Linked DNA regions of Homo sapiens: region 2 is linked to region 1. The links come from fine-mapping of genetic effects on gene expression. A gene starts in region 1. The other region holds a variant in brackets. All regions are shown on one strand. Distances are from middle to middle.

Region 1 (8,319 bases):
TTATCTTCTCAGTGTCCTGAGCCTAGCTCCTCTGAGCCTCAGACTTGCTGTGTGACCCCAGCCACTCATTTGCCCTGTTTGAGCCTCTACTTTTCTTTTCTTTTTTTTTTTTTTTTTGAGACAGAGTCTTGCTCTGTCACCCAGGCTGGAGTGCGGTGCTGCGATCTCGGCTTACCGCAACCTCTGCCTCCCGGGTTCAAGCGATTCTTATGCCCCAGCCTCCGTAGTAGCTGGGATTACAGGCATGCACCACCACGCCCAGTTAATTTTTGTATTTTTAGTAGAGACGGGGTTTCGCCTGTTGGCCAGGCTGGTCTCGAACTCCTGGCTTCAAGTGATCCAACCACCTTGGCCTCCCAAAGTGCTGGGATTACAGGCGTGAACCACAGCACCTGGCCTGAGCCTCTACTTTCTCATTTGTAAAATGGGATGGGAGTTATTGCCTGGCTGGTGCCAGAGGGCCTTAGGAAGATGGAGTACAGGAATGAATGGATCAGGCTTTGAGAGGGACTGGGCCCCTGTGAGTTGAATGTCTGGGCGGATTATCATTGATTGGATCCTTTAGGCCATCACACAGTCTGTTTTCCATCAGTGATGCCGAGAAAGAGATGAGCATCCTTTTAACTTTTTGTTGGACTGGGAACCAGCTACTTTCTTTCAAAGGGTGAGGCTGCCCTGAGGTCTAAGGGATCTGGGCAGGGGTTGGAGGATTCTCACTCACCATGTCTTCAGTCTCCGGGGGGCAAGGCAGCGGCTCCGGCTGGAAAGAAGCAAGGAGTCAGCATGGGGCAGTCCCTCTGGGGTTATATAGTCCTGCCCCAGGGAGCCCTTAACATACCAAGGTAACCTTAGCCCTGCGGGTGCCCACCCCAGATACCAAAATAGCCCAACTCAGGGCCTCTCCTTTCTTGGAGGGCTGGCAGCAGCTGGAGCCCAGCGGGGAGGAAGGGGGGAGCATGTCTTGCGATGCATGTCTCACTAGGGCCTGGGCAAGAAGAGATGTTCTTTCTCCCAAAGAGGGGCTGGAATGTGCCAGAGTTTAGAGGGGACGCAACCCAAGGCATCATTCTGGGAGATAAATGAACCAGATCCTGTACCCCTGAGTGGGGTGGGCTCAGATTTAAACCCAGTAAACGTCTGGGTGCAGTGGTTCACACCTGTAATCCCAGCACTTTGGGAAGCTGAGGCAGGAGGATTGCTTGAGGCCAGGAGTTCAGGACCAGCCTGGGCAACATAGTGAGACCCCTGTCTCCCTTTTTTTTTTTTTTAGACAGTCTCGCTCTGTCTCCCAGGCTAGAGTGCCAGTAGTGTGATCTCGGTTCACTGCAACCTCCACCTCCCCTGTTCAAGTGATTCTCCTATCTTGGCCTCCCGAGTAGCTGGGATTATAGGTGTGCCACGAAGCCAGGCTAATTTTTTTTTTCTGTATTTTTAGTAGAGACAGGGTTTCACCGTGTCGGCCAGAGTGGTCTCAATCTTCTGACCTGGTGATCCATCCACCTAGGCCTCCCAAAGTGCTGGGATTACAGGTGTGAGCCACTGCGCCTGGCCCCCGTCTCTATTTTAAATTAATAAAATAAACCCAGTAAACATGTATTGAACACACACAGTGTGCCACGTGCTAGGCTGGGCTTTGTGGATGTACTTTGGCAGACACAATCCCTCCACCCCCACATGGTGGAGTTCATAGTCAAGTGTGTGTAAGTGTGAGGGTGGTGAGAAAGAGCCATCTGTGGAAGCTGAGGGATCAGGTGGGTCTCCTACCTCCCTTCAAGGAGAGGGGAATTTTTTTTTCTTTTCTTTCTTTTTTTTTTTTTTTGAGATGGAGTCTTGCTCTTGTCACCCAGGTGGGAGTGCAATGGTGCGATCTCGGCTTACTGCAACCTCCGCCTTCTGGGTTCAAGCGATACTTCTGCCTCAGCCTCCTGAGTAGCTGGGATTCCAGGCACCCGCCACCATGCCCAGCTACTTTTTTTTTTTTTTTTTGAGATGAAGTCTCGTTTTGTTATCCGGGCTGGAGTGCAGTGGCGTGATCTTGGCTCACTGTAACCTCCGCCTCCCGGGTTCAAGTGATTCTCCTGCTTCAGCCTCCCGAGTAGCTGGGACTACAGGCGCGTGTCACCACGCCCGCCTAATTTTTTTGTATTTTTAGTAGAGACGGGGTTTCCCCGCGTTAGCCAGGATGATCTCGATCTCCTGACCTTGTGATCTGCCTGCCTCGGCCTCCCAAAGTGCTGGGATTACAGGCGTGAGCCACCGTGCCCGGCATCTAATTTTTTGTATTTTTAGTAGAGATGGCGTTTCACCATGTTGGCCAGGCTGGTCTTGAATTCCGACTTCAGATGATCCACCCGTCTCGACCTCCCAAAGTGCTCAAAGTGCTGGGATTACAGGCATGAGCCACCGCGCCGAGCCAAGAGGGATTTTTTGAGGCAAGATGCTTTGTGGTCTCAGGTTTTGTGCTGGGCCTTGGTTTCCCCTCTGTAAAAGGGAGATGTAGTTCCCATCCCACAGAACTTGCCTTATAACTAATAGAGACAGGAATGAATGCAGAAACTGACATACCAGAGCTGGTCAGGAGCCCAGAAGTGGAGGGCGCAGCAGCCCTGTCTAGGAGTATGGGAGTGGCTTCACGAGGGCCAGGGAGTCAGGTGCAGGTGGAGGAGCAGATGTGCTGGGCGGAGGGCATGGCCTGAGCAAAGGCCTGGAGAGCGGAAGATCAGAAGTGTTCAGGTGGCCAGAATTGTGATGGGGCTGGTGACCAGCCCCTGAGGGGCCTTTGCCAGGCACAGGACGGAGACCCTGGGGAACCTTGGAAAGGTTTCATGCAGAAGAAGGATGTGATCTAGTATGAGTCTAGAATATTTTCTCTGGGTACTGGTGTGGAGGCTGGAACTCAAGAGGGGAGGAAAAGACCCTAAAAGGACAGCCAGCTGGTCACTTTCTGTGAGGTGCCTTGATAGCCAGTGGCAGCTCACTTTATTCTGGCCAAGAGCCAGCTTGGCTGATTGTGTGACTTTGATGTACCCTCTCTTCTCCCTCTGGGCCTCAGTGACCCAGTCCCCTCCATGCAGCAGAAGTCTGGAAAAATAGTGGCTGAGGAAGCCCCAAGTTGGCAAGGACAACCATCTCCTTCTCCTCCCGCTCCCTCTAGGACCCGATGTCCTGAGGAAGATGCCTCCCCCTGCCCTGTCCCCCCTCCTCCAGGCCCATGCCGATACCTCTAAGACATTTTCTTTTCTGGGCACTGAGGCCCCAGCCACCTGTTGTCTCTAAGAAGAGAGAAGGAGCCACCCTAAACTTAGCAGCTGCCCTTAGCCTCCCACACCAGCCCCTCCCTGCCTCAGACAGCAGCTGCCTCGCCTTATAGGGTTACCACGGGGGTCCAGGCCAGGGAGGAGCCCACTTATTACTGGGTTCTGGGAGAGGAGGAGGACTCCAAAAAGGGGAATGGGAGGAGAGCTCAGGAAGCTTGGGTCAAACGGGAGATGGGAAAGGTGAGGAGAAGGAGATCAGACACTGAGTGGGAATTGACAGGACATGGGGCTGAGTTGGGAGTGAGGGACCTTAGAGGACTCAGAAACCAAGGAGGAGCTGAGAAGTCGGGAGCTAGGTCTCACTGGAATTCCAGGATGGTGGATGCTATATGGAAATCAGAATATGGGGGTCAGAGAAAGAAGAGGGCGTTTAGAAGTTGGAAGGTTGGAGCTCATAACGTCAGGTCTTTATGCTTGTGATCTAAGGACAACCTGGAGCGCTCATGAGATTGAGGTCGGGATTCTCAGTGGAACATGAGGAGCACAGAGGGATGTGGCAGTGAGGGGAGAGGGGTTGACGGGACTGGGGCCTTGGATCCCCAAAAGAATAGTAACACACATATGGGGAGTTCATGGTATTAGGGATTCATGGATTTGGGGTTTGAGATCCCCACTAGAAGAAATGGAGGGGGTACTCAGAGGGATAAGGTCTGAGGAACTGGAGCCTGGGTTCTGGGGAGGAGCTCAGATAGATGGGAACTGAGGAGAGGGACTTGGAGGTTGGGATTCCCGCAGGAAATGGGTGAAGCAGAGATATGGGTTGCTTATAGGATCTGGGGGCTCTGGCTATTGCCACCTGGGCCTGGAGTGTTGGGGTTAGTTGGGGGCCGAGATCGGAGAATTATAGAGTAAAGGATGAGAGTACTGGGTCAGGGCACTGGATCTGTGGTGGGGCTCAGGGTCCCACAGACCACCAGAGTGTGGGGCTCAGGAGCTGAACGAAGAATAGGGGACCGGAAAGGACTCGAGAGGGGGCAGCGCGGCACTCATTGGTTGAGGGCTGCACTAATGCCCCCGCCCCTTCTCCGTGCTGTCCCCAGCTGTCACCCTCCCATAAGGCTTGTCTCCGGTTGTCACCGACTATCCCTGGGCTGGCACCGCCTGCTGGCAGCATCTTTGCCCTTTGGATGCTCCCATTGGCTGAGACAGCTATCTATTTTCCTGTCCTGTGGCCAAAGTGGGAGAACACGATCATTGGCTGACGGGGCGAATTAATCTCTAGCTTGCCCCGCCTCCTCCCAGCTGTCATTCCTTACTGACCATTTTGGGAGACCTAAAGAATTCTTCAGCTCTTCCTATTGACTGCGGATGCTGTCTGTCACCGCCTAAATAGACATCACTGCCTGTCAATTTGACCTCCACCTGCTCCCCTTTTCATTGGCTCCCTTTTTACCATTCCTATTGGTTAAGAAGCCTCCAGGCCCCACCTCTTACTCGCACAGCCCTGCCTCCTCCTCCGCCCTTCCGCGGTCATTCACCCTTCAGTCATATTCATTGGCCAGGAGGTTCAGACCCCTGCGTTTCTATTGGTTATTTCTTTCGTCCCATCGCCCCCTGCCTTTCCTCGTCCTCTGATTGGTCTTACAGCCCTAGCTTTCTCCGTTTCCTCTTTCCAGATGACCCACCCCTTTTTCGCCTCCAGCCCCGCCCACGATTCCAACGATTGGCAGAAGCCCAGTTCTCTCTCTCCCACTATTCGTCCAAATCCTCTGACTAGGCGGGAGAAAAAAGGAGCGCGATGAGCCAGTCCGCGCGCAGGCGTGGAACGCCGAGACGCTGGCGCGGAGCCGGCTCTGCGGCGTGTGCGCAGGCGCGAGGTCGGCGGCTCGCCCCCAAGCAGGAGGGAGGGGGCGGTGGCGAGAGCGCGCGAGGGGGTGAGAGGGCTCGAGAGAGACCCCGGCGCGCGGCGCCCCCCGACCCCTGCCCCGCCTCTGCGCGCCCAGCGGCCGCTCCGCCCCCGGCGCGCGCCGAGCCGCGCCCTTCGCCCTCTCCCCTTTCTCGGCTGGCCTCGCCGGGAGGCCCGAGGGGCGGCGCCTTCTGCGGCCTCCCCGGCGGGGGGATGTGAGGGGCGGCCCGCGGCCATGGAGACGGGCACGGCGCCCCTGGTGGCCCCGCCGCGCCGTCATGGCGCCCCCGCGGCCCCCTCGCCGCCGCCCCGGGGTTCCCGGGCCGGGCCCGTCGTGGTGGTGGCTCCGGGACCTCCAGTGACTACGGCCACTTCGGCCCCCGTCACCCTGGTGGCCCCCGGGGAGGCGCGGCCCGCCTGGGTCCCGGGGTCGGCCGAGACCTCTGCTCCGGCCCCGGCCCCAGCCCCGGCCCCAGCCCCGGCTGTCACGGGCAGCACGGTGGTGGTGCTGACCCTGGAGGCCTCGCCCGAAGCCCCAAAGCCGCAGCTCCCCTCCGGCCCGGAATCCCCAGAGCCCGCGGCAGTGGCTGGAGTTGAGACATCGAGGGCTCTGGCCGCAGGGGCAGACTCGCCGAAGACAGAGGAGGCTCGACCCTCACCCGCCCCAGGACCAGGGACCCCCACCGGGACCCCTACCAGGACCCCTTCCAGAACGGCTCCTGGTGCCCTGACCGCCAAACCCCCGCTTGCCCCCAAGCCGGGAACCACAGTGGCCTCAGGAGTGACTGCACGGAGTGCATCAGGACAAGTGACAGGTGGGCATGGAGCTGCCGCAGCAACATCAGCATCAGCAGGACAGGCTCCTGAGGACCCCTCAGGCCCTGGCACAGGCCCCTCTGGGACTTGTGAGGCTCCGGTAGCTGTCGTGACCGTGACCCCAGCTCCGGAGCCTGCTGAAAACTCTCAAGACCTGGGCTCCACGTCCAGCCTGGGACCTGGCATCTCTGGGCCTCGAGGGCAGGCCCCGGACACGCTGAGTTACTTGGACTCCGTGAGCCTCATGTCTGGGACCTTGGAGTCCTTGGCGGATGATGTGAGCTCCATGGGCTCAGATTCAGAGATAAACGGGCTGGCCCTGCGCAAGACGGACAAGTATGGCTTCCTTGGGGGCAGCCAGTACTCGGGCAGCCTGTGAGTACCAGTGGGCACCCAGCGGGACCGCCTCGGGGAAGCAAAGGTTGGGGGAGGGCGAAACGAAAACGATACACTTTGCCCAGACTCTGGCAGCCCAGCCTCCTCTGAGGATCCACGGGGTGATCAGCGCGAGCTGCCGTGTCTTGAGCATCCTGAGGTGCCTGTGACATTGGCATGTTAGTGGAGTTTCAGACCAGGGGTCAAGAGGTCTGGGTTTAAGCCTTGCCTTTGATGGGTTGTGTGCCCTTGAGCTAGTGGCTTCCCCATTTCCGTGCCTCAGTTTTTTCCTCTATAAAGTGGATTGAATGAGATGATACCTGAGGTCATCCCTGCTCTTTGATGGGGAACTCCAGCTACAGGCCGGATATTCTGGAGGGTTGGTTGGGCGAGGGTTCTGGTAGAGACCCTTGGTCCCTTAGGGTGGATAGCCTGGGAGGGGTGCAGGCATCTCCCTTCCCCCATAGCCCTAGGTCCCAGGGATGGAGTAGAGAGGTGGGGAAGTCTGGCTGATGGAAGGGAGACTGTGCAGTCAGGATCCCGCTGTGAAACAGGGCAGTCTTGTATCTGCACTGAAGTAAAGGGTGGGAGAGGCCTCTTCCCCATTTCCTCATCTCCCCAGCCGGGCTGACTCTTTCCTAGTTCTCTCCGGGGCCTGAGTCACTCCCGAGGTAGGGGGTGATTGCCTCTGACTTCTTCCTTCCCCCTCTCTGGATCCTGCCCGTTGTTCCTGTGCCCCTTTGACCTGCTGGGCCAGTCAGCCTACAGCATCTCCTGGGCCCCCAGGTGTCAGGCCCCAGGTGCTAAGGATAAAATAGTCCTTTCAAGGAGCCAATCATCTGGAGAGAAAGAAAAGTACTTAAACAGTTGGTTTCAATAGAAGACCTCGGGTTTAGCCTAGAGATCTCCAGAGGGTTTCCTGAGGCACCTAGAGCAGGGAGTCAGCTGAACCTGCTCTGAATCGTGGAGAGTAAGTAGGATTGATTTAGTCTTGGCTATGTGTGCAGGGATCGGGGGAAGCCCTGTGGGAGAGTTTTCCAGGCAGGGTTCATGAGCCAACCAAAATCAGAAAGCCTTTGATTGGGTACCAACATTCAGGGTCTTACATGGGAAAGCAACTGAGGTTTGACCCTGGTGCTTTCTAGGCACAAGGACTCGGTTTATAGATGAAGAAACAATTAGTGCAGTTGAGTGAATTGTCCCCCTCAAATAATCTGGATCTGTGTGACCAGTGGCTCTCTCCTCAATAGCAGGCTGTCCTGAGGAACTCGGGCTGAACTTAGTTTGGGGGAGTCCCTCTTGTGTGCCAGGCACTATGCCGGGTGCTGTTTCTTTGCTTTGTAGCTTTGTCCCTGTAAGATCAGCTTCAATGCCAGAGAACTCTACCTCTTGGGCAAGACTGACTGTAATCCATGTTACTTTCGCAGCGTTCAGTGGCTCGCTGCTGTCCACAGGATGAAGTTCAGGCTCTTTGGCCTGCGCATAGCCTCTCTGGTCACCTTTGCCACCATTCCTCACCGGGTGCTTTGCGCTGTGGTCCTGCTGAACTAGTTGTAGTCCTTTCCCCTTCATATTCAGGCTGTGCACCTGCCAAGGGTGCTCTTCTCCCCTTTCTTTGCCTGCTAAGTTCTACTCATTTCTTCATGGCTTACCTCAGATGTCCCCTCCTCCAGGAAGCTTCCCTGATACCCACTGCCCCCACTCCAATTAGATGTGTCTTTGGTGCATCTTTGTCATTGCATTTCCCATGCTGTATTACAGTTATCGCTCCTCTTAGGCTGTAACCTTCTTGAGGGCCAGAAGGTATCTTACTCTTCCCAGCCCTTGGTAGAGTTTGTAACCGACTTATGATAGAAATTAATGAGAGATGGTCTCTCTGTTTAAGGAGCTTCTAGAACAAAGGAAACTAACATTTAACGAGCCCCTTCTATTTAACAGATGTTTATATGCAGTTTCTCAATAGTC
Region 2 (8,319 bases), 32 kb before region 1:
CCCCACTCATCCCAGCATTCAAGGCCTTGAACAGTTCGAATCTCCAGCCCCCGCAAGTCGCCACCATCCTTGCGCTGAGTCACTCCCCAGGGCCCGGGTCGGCGACCTGGAGCTCTGGGGCACGGGCTGGAGGCGGGATCGGGGCGGAAACCCCGGGGAGGGGGTGCGCACTCACCAGCCGAAGGTTCGGCACTCGCGGTGCCCCAGGCCTGGGCGCCGGGCGGCTGGGCACTCAGCGAGGCCGCGGCTCCGGGGGCGGGGAGGGGGCGGGACCGCAGGGACGGCCGGTCATTGGTCCGAACATATAGCCCCACCCCCTGGGGCGGAGCCCGAAGGACCCAGGCGTCCGGCCCAAACGGCTCGGAGAGGGCGGCGAGCTCAGACTTGGCGTCCTCCGCAGTCCCCCGACTCCCAAGCACCTGGAGCCGCCCCAGCCCGGCGTTCAAGGTCCTTGCCGCCGAGTTCCAACCTAACCTCGCGGCCCGTCTCCTGGGGCCGGCTTGGAGGTCTCCGCTGCGCCCAGTGCCTCTGCTCCGCCCGAAATAGGCCACGTGCGCTCCCGCCCCGGCCTGGGCCTCTCCCTGGCGCCCCGCCTGGAGGGCGGACCCTGTTGCCTCCTCACTTCTTCCATTCCCTCTTTATCTCCTCTGCCGTCTTTTCTCCATCTTTCTCGGCTTCGCCTATTCCGCTGGCCTCTGGGATATCCTTGAATACATCCTAACCAATTCAACATCCACCCAAGCTACCGCTGTCGCGTCATGCGTGGGGTGCTTACCATGCGCCAGCGCTGTTCAGCGTCTTACATACCTGGTCTCATTTGATCCGCATAACGATGGGTCCTGATCCATTTTACAGATGAGCTCACTGAAGTTCAGGGAGGTAAACTGATTTGCCTAAGTTACACGATAAGGATGTCATAGCATCCCTGACAATCAGTAGCCTAGGTGAACAACAGCCCAAAGCTAAATCCAGTCCACAGGGGTACCTTGTTTGGCCCTTAGGGTATTTTTACTTTTAAAAAATCTTTTCGGACGGGCACGGCGGCTCACGCCTGTAATCCCAGCACTTTAGGAGGCCGAGGCGGGCGGATCACGAGGTCAGGAGATAGAGACCATCCTGGCTAACACGGTGAAACCCCGACTCTACTAAACAAAATACAAAAAATTAGCTGGGCGTGGTGGCGGGCACCTGTAGTGCCAGCTACTCGGGAGGCTGAGACAGGAGAATGGCGTGAACCCGGGAGGCGAGCTTGCAGTTAGCCGAGATCGCGCCACTGCGCTCCAGCCTGGGCGACAGAGCGAGACTCCGTCTCAAAAAAAAAAAAAAAAAAAAAAAAAAAAAATCGTTTCAAAGCCGGGCGCGGTGGCTCATGCCTGTAATCCCAGCACTTTGGGAGGCGGAGGCCGGTGGATCACTTGAGGTCAGGATTTCGAGACCAGCCTAACCAACATGGTGAAACCCCGTCTCTACTAAAAATACAAAAATTAGCCAAGCTTGGTGGTGCATGCCTGTAATCCCAGCTACTCGAGAGGCTGAGGCACGAGAATTGCTTGAACTGGGGAGGCAGTGGTTGCAGTGAGCCGAGATCATGCCATTGGTCTCCAGCCTAGGCAACAAGAGCGAAACTCCGTCTCAAGAAAAAAAAAATTAAATTGGGATATTTCATATAAAAATAGATTTTTTTTTAGTGGAATAAACAAATGCCACTTCCTTTGAAAAACAGCCACTTCCCTTGAAAAAGCAGATATCTAATTTTCCCATTTTATGAATGGGGCAACTAAGATTCAGAAATCATGAAGGAAAACAGAAATAACATTCAGTAAGTGCTTACAAGTTCTATGTTGTCTCTTTACAACAGCCCTGTTGGGATCAATAATATCTCCATTGGACAAAAGAAGAAACGGAAGCTTAGACAAGTTAAGTAATTTGCTCAAAGTCACACAGCTGGCAAGCAGCAGATTCAAAGCTTGTGCTCTTCTATTGCACCAAATTACCTCTCAGGAATGAAGTTATAAAACTGGCTCTTTCCCAGAGCTGGGAGAAGGGGTCAAATGCCTGGATACTCACACACAGGATCCCCAAAAGCCACTTTGCATTCATTCTCTGAGTTTTTTTTTTTTTTTTTTTTTTTTTTTGAGATGGAGTCTTGCTCTGTCGCCCAGGTTGGAGTGCAATAGCACAGTCTAGGCTCACTGCAACCTCCGCTTCCCAGGTTCAAGTGATTCTCCTGCCTCAGCCTCCCAAGTAGCTAGGATTACAGGCACACACCACCACACCGGGCTATTTTTGTATTTTTTGTAGAGACGGGGTTTCACCATCTTGGCCAGGCTGGTCTCAAACCCCTGACCTCGTGATCCACCCACCTTGGCCTCCCAAAGTGCTGGAATTACAGGCTTGAGCCACCACGCCTGGCCTCTCTGGGTATTTATTGAGTCCTATATACCCGTCACCCTTCTAGGTATGGGGGATGTAGTAGTGAACAAAACAGATAAAAATAGTGGCTCTTGTGACACTACTAAGGGTGCAAACAAATGTACACATGTAAAGAGGAAGATAATATCAGATAATGATAGGTGCAACGGGGCAAATCTGACAAGATGATCCAACAGGGAGCAGCTATGGTAACAGGGGCTTCTTTAATGCAGGCAGGGAAGGTGTCTCAGGATACAATTTTTTTTTTTTTTTTGAGATGGAGTCTCATTCTATCACCCAGGCTGGAGTGCAGTGGCATGATCTCAGCTCACTGCAACCTCCACCTCCCGGGTTCAAGGGATTCTCCTGCCTCAGCCTCCCGAGTAGCTGAGATTACAGGTGCGCGCCATACACTCAGCTAATTTTTTTTTTTTTTTGAGGCGGAGTCTTGCTCCGTCTCCCAGGCTGGAGTGCAGTGGTGCGATCTCGGCTCACCGCAAGCTCTGCCTCCCAGGTTCACACCATTCTCCTGCCTCAGCCTCCCAAGTAGCTGGGACTATAGGCGCCCACCACCACGCCCAGCTAATTTTTTTTGTATTTTTAGTAGAGACAGGGTTTCACCGTGTTAGCCAGGCTGGTCTTGAACTCCTGACCTCAAGTGATCTGCCTGCCTTGGCCTCCCAAAGTGCTGGGATTACAGGAATGAGCCACCATGCCCAGCCTGGATACAATATTTTGTTTGTTTGTTTGAGACAGAGTCTCCAGCTGTCGCCCTGGCTGGTGGACAGTGGCGCAATCTTGGCTCACTGCAACCTCTGCCTCCCGGGTTCAATTCTCCTGCCTCAGCCTCCCGAGTAGCTATGATTACAGGTGCCTGCCACCATGCCTGGCTAATTTTTTGTATTTTCAGTAGAGAAGGGGGTTTCACTATGTGAGCCAGGCTGGTCTCGAACTCCTGACCTCAAGTGATCCACCTGCTTCGGCCTCCCAAACTGCTGAGATTATAGGCGTGAGCCACCGCGCCCGGCCTGGATACAATATTTGAGATGAACCTTGAATGATGAGAAAGGGTTAGCCATTTGAAAATCTGGAAGAAGAGTGTTTGAGACTGAACTGCAGAGGCCTTGAGGCAGAAGCTTGTGTGTTTGAGGAATAGGAAGAAGACTTGTGTTGCTGGATCTGAGCATCCAAGGGAGTGAACAAGGGGAAATGTAGCAAGGGAGATGGAGGAGAGGTAGGCAGAGGGTAAACTTGGCCAGAACCCAACCTCTAGCGAAAGCAAAGCATCTCGCTCTGATTAAGAGAGAATCAGTGAGGAGACTCAGCCAGGAGCCTGTCTCTGGCAGTGAAAGTCCCTACTGGAAGGAGCCTCCTGCTGTTTTAAATAGGAACTTGGAAAAAGAAGGTAAAGGGCTCCATCGATTTGCCCTGCAACCATGTACAGGTATCTACTTGCAATACGATCTAGTTCATGTTCTTGAGGATCTCATAGTCTAGTAAAGAAGTTTTTGGGCCATGCGCGGTGGTCACACCTATAATCGCAGCACTTTGGGAGGCTGAGGCAGGTGGATCACCTGAGGTCAGGAGTTCGAGACCAGCCTGGCCAACACCCCATCTCTACTAAAAATACAAAAATTAGCCTAGTGTGGTAGCGCATGTCTATAGTCCCAGCTACTTGGGAGGCTGAGGCAGGAGAATTGCTTAAACTCTGTCTCAAAAAAAAAAAAAAATAAGTTTTTGGGGCCAGGAGCAATGGCCCATACCTGTAATACCAACACTTTGGGAGTCCAAAGTGGGTAGTCGCTTGAGGTCAGGAGTTCAAGACCAGTCTGGCCAACATGGCGAAACCCTGTCTTTACTAAAAATACAAAAATTAGCTGGGCATGGTGGCACACGCCTGTAATCCCAGCTATTTGGGAGGCTAAAGCATGAGAATCGCTTGAACCCAGGAGGTGGAGGTTGCAGTAAGCTGAGATCGTGCCACTGCACTCCAGCCTGGGCAACAGAGCAAGACCCTGTCTTAAAAAAAAAAGAAGACGGAGAAGGAGGAAGAAGAAGAAGAAGAGGAATAGGAAGAGGAAGAAGAAGAAAAGGAGAAGAAGAAGAAGAAGAAGAAGAAGAAGAAGAAGAAGAAGAAGAAGAAGCAGCAGCAGCAGCAGCTTGTGGGCTGGGCGTGGTGGCTCTCACCTGTAATCCTAGCACCTTGGGAGGTTGAGGCAGGTGGATTGCTTGAGCTCAGGAGTTGGAGACAAGCCTGGGAAACGTGGTGAAACCCCGTCTGTACAAAAATCACCAAAAAAAAGAAAATTAGCTGAGCATAATAGTGCACGTGCCTGTAGTCCCAGATACTTGTGCGGCTGAGGCAGGAGGAGCACTTGAACCTGGGAGGTTGAGGCTGCAGTGAGCCGATATTGCATGCTGCACTCCAGCCTGGGTGACAAAGTGAGACTCTGTCTCAAAAAAAAAAAAAAAAGAAGCTTCTGATTTAAAATAGATCTCTAAATATACAGTATGAGTGATATAAGAAAAGGATAACAGGGTGTTCTAGCAGGAGAAGAGTGGGGTAAGTGAACCACTCTTTCGGGGGTATTAGGTATTTCGTGCTGGTCTCACTGAGAAGGTAACTGTGAAGGACCTTGAAAGATGAGTGGGTGTCAGGTGTGGTGACGCACACCTATGGTCCCAGCTACTTAGGAGGCTGAGGCAGGAGGACTGCTGGAGCCCAGGGGTTCAAGGCTATAGTGCACTATGTGCCTGTGAATAGCTACTGTATTCC[A/G]GCCTGGGCAATATAGTGAGAGCTCATCTGTAAAAAAAACAAGCAAACAAAAACTAAAGATGAGTGGGACTTTGCCAGATTGGCAAGGAGGCAGTAGTTTGTGGAAATATATATATATATTTTGAGACAGGGTCTCACTCCGTCCCCCAGGCTGGAGTGCAGTGTGCAGTCACAGCTCACCGCAACCTTGACTTCCCAGGCACAAGCGATCCTCCTGCCTCAAGCCTCCCGAGTAGCTGGGATTACAGTATTTTCTGGTGGTGGCGGGGGTCGTTTTTGTTTTTTGGAGACAAGATCTTGCTCTTTTGCCCAGGATGGAGTGCAGTGGCATGATCATGGCTCACTGCAGCCTCAACTTCCTGGGGCCAAGCGATCCTCCCACCTCAGCCTCCTGAGTTGCTGGGACTACAGGTGCATTCCACCTAATTTTTGTATTTTTTGTAGAGAGGTCTCACTATGTTGCCCAGGCTGGTCTCGAACTCCTGGCCTCCTGGCCTCCTGCCTCAACCTCTCAAAATGCTGGGATGACAGGCCTGAGCCACACCTGGCCTGGAAAGGCCTTTGGATCACAGAGGATTCTTTCCAGCTCATAGGTTTGCTGGACATTTCTCACCTCACTTGTAATTATTTGTTCAATGTCTATCTCCCGCATAAAAACAGGTCAGGGACTTTGTCTTGTTTATCTTTCTATCCCAGTATGCAGCACACAATAGGTGCAGCTGTTGAGTGAGTAACTATCCTCAAGAAGCTCTTCATGTGTTAGGTGCTCAGAGACGGGTTGCTCAGAGAAGGGGATTGTAACTAACCCAGACGAGGGTCAGAGTAGGCTTCTTGGAGGAAGTAGTGCTTGAGGTGTTTTGACAGAGGAGATTAACAAGGGGTGGGTAGTGGTGGAGGAGCATTCCAAGTAAAAGAAACGACATTTAAGGAGCCCAGGGCTGAAACTACACAAATGGAAGGGCTTGAGTGCCAATGAAAGTTAGGCTTTGGGGACAGCATGTGGAGATCCACTGGGGTTTCAATGGGGGAGTGACATGGCCAGATGTAATTTTAGAAAGCAGGCCAGGCACGGTGGCTCATGCCTATAAATCCTAGCACTTTGGGAGGCCGAGGCGGGCAGATCACCTAAGGTCAGGAGTTTGAGACCAGCCTGGCCAACATGGTGAAACCCCGTCTCTACTAAAAATAAAAAAATTAGCCAGGCGCGGTGGCGGACGCCTGTAATCCCAGCTACTAGGGAGGCTGAGGCAGGAGAATCGCTTGAACCCGAGCGGAGGCTGCAGTGAGCCGAAGATCCTGCCACTGCACTCCAGCCTGGGCGACAGAGTGAGTGAGACCCTGTCTTGAGAAAAAAAGAAAAAAGAAAAAGAAAGAAATCAAGAAAAGAAAGTGGCCAGGCGCGGTGGCTCACGCCTGTAATCCCAGCACTTTGGAAGGCTGAGGCGGGCGGATCACGAAGTCCGGAGTTCGAGACCAGCCTGACAAACATGGTGAAACTCCGTCTCTACTAAAAATACAAAAATTAGCCGGGCTTGGTAGCGCGCCTGTAATCCCAGCTACTCAGGAGGCTGAGGCAGGAGAATCGCTTGAACCCGGGAGGCGGAGGTTGCAGTGAGCCAAGATCGCGCCACTGCACTCCAGCCTGGGCGACAGAGCGAGACTCCGTCTCAAAAAAAAAGAAAAGAAAGTTCACTGCAGGTCGTCTTGGAGGGCACACTGGTAGGGAAGGGAGCTAGGAAAACCAGCAAGAAGGAACTTCCAGAAGCCCCAAAGGGCTCCGCTCAGGCCATCAAGAGCCCCAGCCCTGAACGCAGGGTTCTAGGGTTTTGAGAGCGCATCAATTTGGAAAGGGCGGGCGGAGCGGGAGGAGCCGCACTGCAGCCAGCCCTGGTCGGTTTCTAGGGAAGCCAGGCCAGTGCTTACGATCTCGCGAGAACCCGTCCAGGGATTCTTTCCGCACGGAGATCGGGGAGAGCCGGGGGCGGGAACTTGCGACCCTGTACTTCGTTGCCTTCATTGTTTAGCGGGGAGAACCGCCCTGGACTTCTTTTTTCTTTAATCCCTGGCCGATCAGGCCAGTGGTTGTGAAAACGCTAGGGATTGCAGACCTGCTTCCCAGGCCCCGCGGGGCGCCGGGAAATCCGGCGGGCTTTTCTGGGGGTGAAGGAGCACCGTTTGCCCTCCCTTTGGGCTGTGCAGCCGAATGACTCATTTCCCGACGCATAAAAAGGGTCTCGGGTGTCGGGTTTCCCAGGTCCCGGTGGGCGGCGCGCCGGCGTCCGGGCTTTCCACGCCGGTTCCAGACCTGTGGGCTGCCTCCCGCCGACAGCCGTCGCCATAGCAACAACGCCCCCCACACGCCCCCTCTTCCTCCTCCTTGCTGCCTTGTCTCTGCAGCGCCGCGCGGTTTTCCTTTTAAGGGTCGCGCTGGATGCTGTGGCGTAGGTGGTGCCTGCGGGCAGCCAGACCTCAGGCCTGGGGCATCGGCTGATGGAGCTGGCGGCCGTTTTTGAACCAGACGTCGGAGCTAGAAAGCCGCTGACTACGCCAAGACAACCTCTTTATTTAATGGGCTCAGAGAGCAAGGGAAGCACACAAAATTTACAGTCTGAGTTTTGCGCGCAGAGACCCCTCTCCACCTTTTTCATGCCTGTGTGTACACACACACTGTCCAAGCCTCAGAAGAGAAGCCGTTTATTGGTAAAAAGACACATGGAAATGTGGCTGCCAGGCCTCAGAGCATCCTGCCCTTTTCCCAAACAGCTGGCCTCTGCTATCCACCAGGACTTGGGCTTGGCATCCAGGCTGGATACCATGAGAGCACCTTCTGTCTCTGGTCTATTCTGCCAGTGTCTCCGTGTCAGGGTGGGTTGGCTCCCTCCAGGGCACAAAGGTCTGGGCTCTGTCCAAGAGTGCCCCTCCATAGGGGTGGGTACCACCATGCCACACAGCAGTATTTGCCCCATCCGGATGATCAAGATACCCCTGCCTCATCCTGTTACCTTAAATTCCAGAAGCCCCATCTCTGCAGCTCAGAAGGTAAACAAACCCTGGTTCAGGCATTGGTCTCCCAGAGCAAGGTTGGGAGGCATCAGTGGTGCAATCAGCTCACTGCAGCCTCAAACTTTTGG

What was found.
Region 2: its variant is fine-mapped to the expression of TBC1D10B in whole blood (TOPMed, PIP above 0.99).

What each region holds. Positions count from the first base shown.
Region 1 is chr16:30,367,263-30,375,581 of GRCh38, reverse strand. TBC1D10B (TBC1 domain family member 10B) reads left to right here and starts at 5,088. Exons shown (of 9, transcript NM_015527.4): 1 at 5,088-6,354. The coding sequence starts at 5,399. MYL11 (myosin light chain 11) reads right to left here and starts at 780. Exons shown (of 7, transcript NM_013292.5): 1 at 722-780. The coding sequence starts at 724. RefSeq lists silencers at 5,203-5,492, 5,583-5,662.
Region 2 is chr16:30,399,521-30,407,839 of GRCh38, reverse strand. It overlaps ZNF48 (zinc finger protein 48), which reads right to left. Exons shown (of 3, transcript NM_001214909.2): 3 at 7,732-8,319. It overlaps ZNF771 (zinc finger protein 771), which reads right to left and starts at 234. Exons shown (of 3, transcript NM_001142305.2): 1 at 176-234. RefSeq lists silencers at 99-308, 331-510. The variant A/G (reference allele first, on the strand shown) is at 5,189.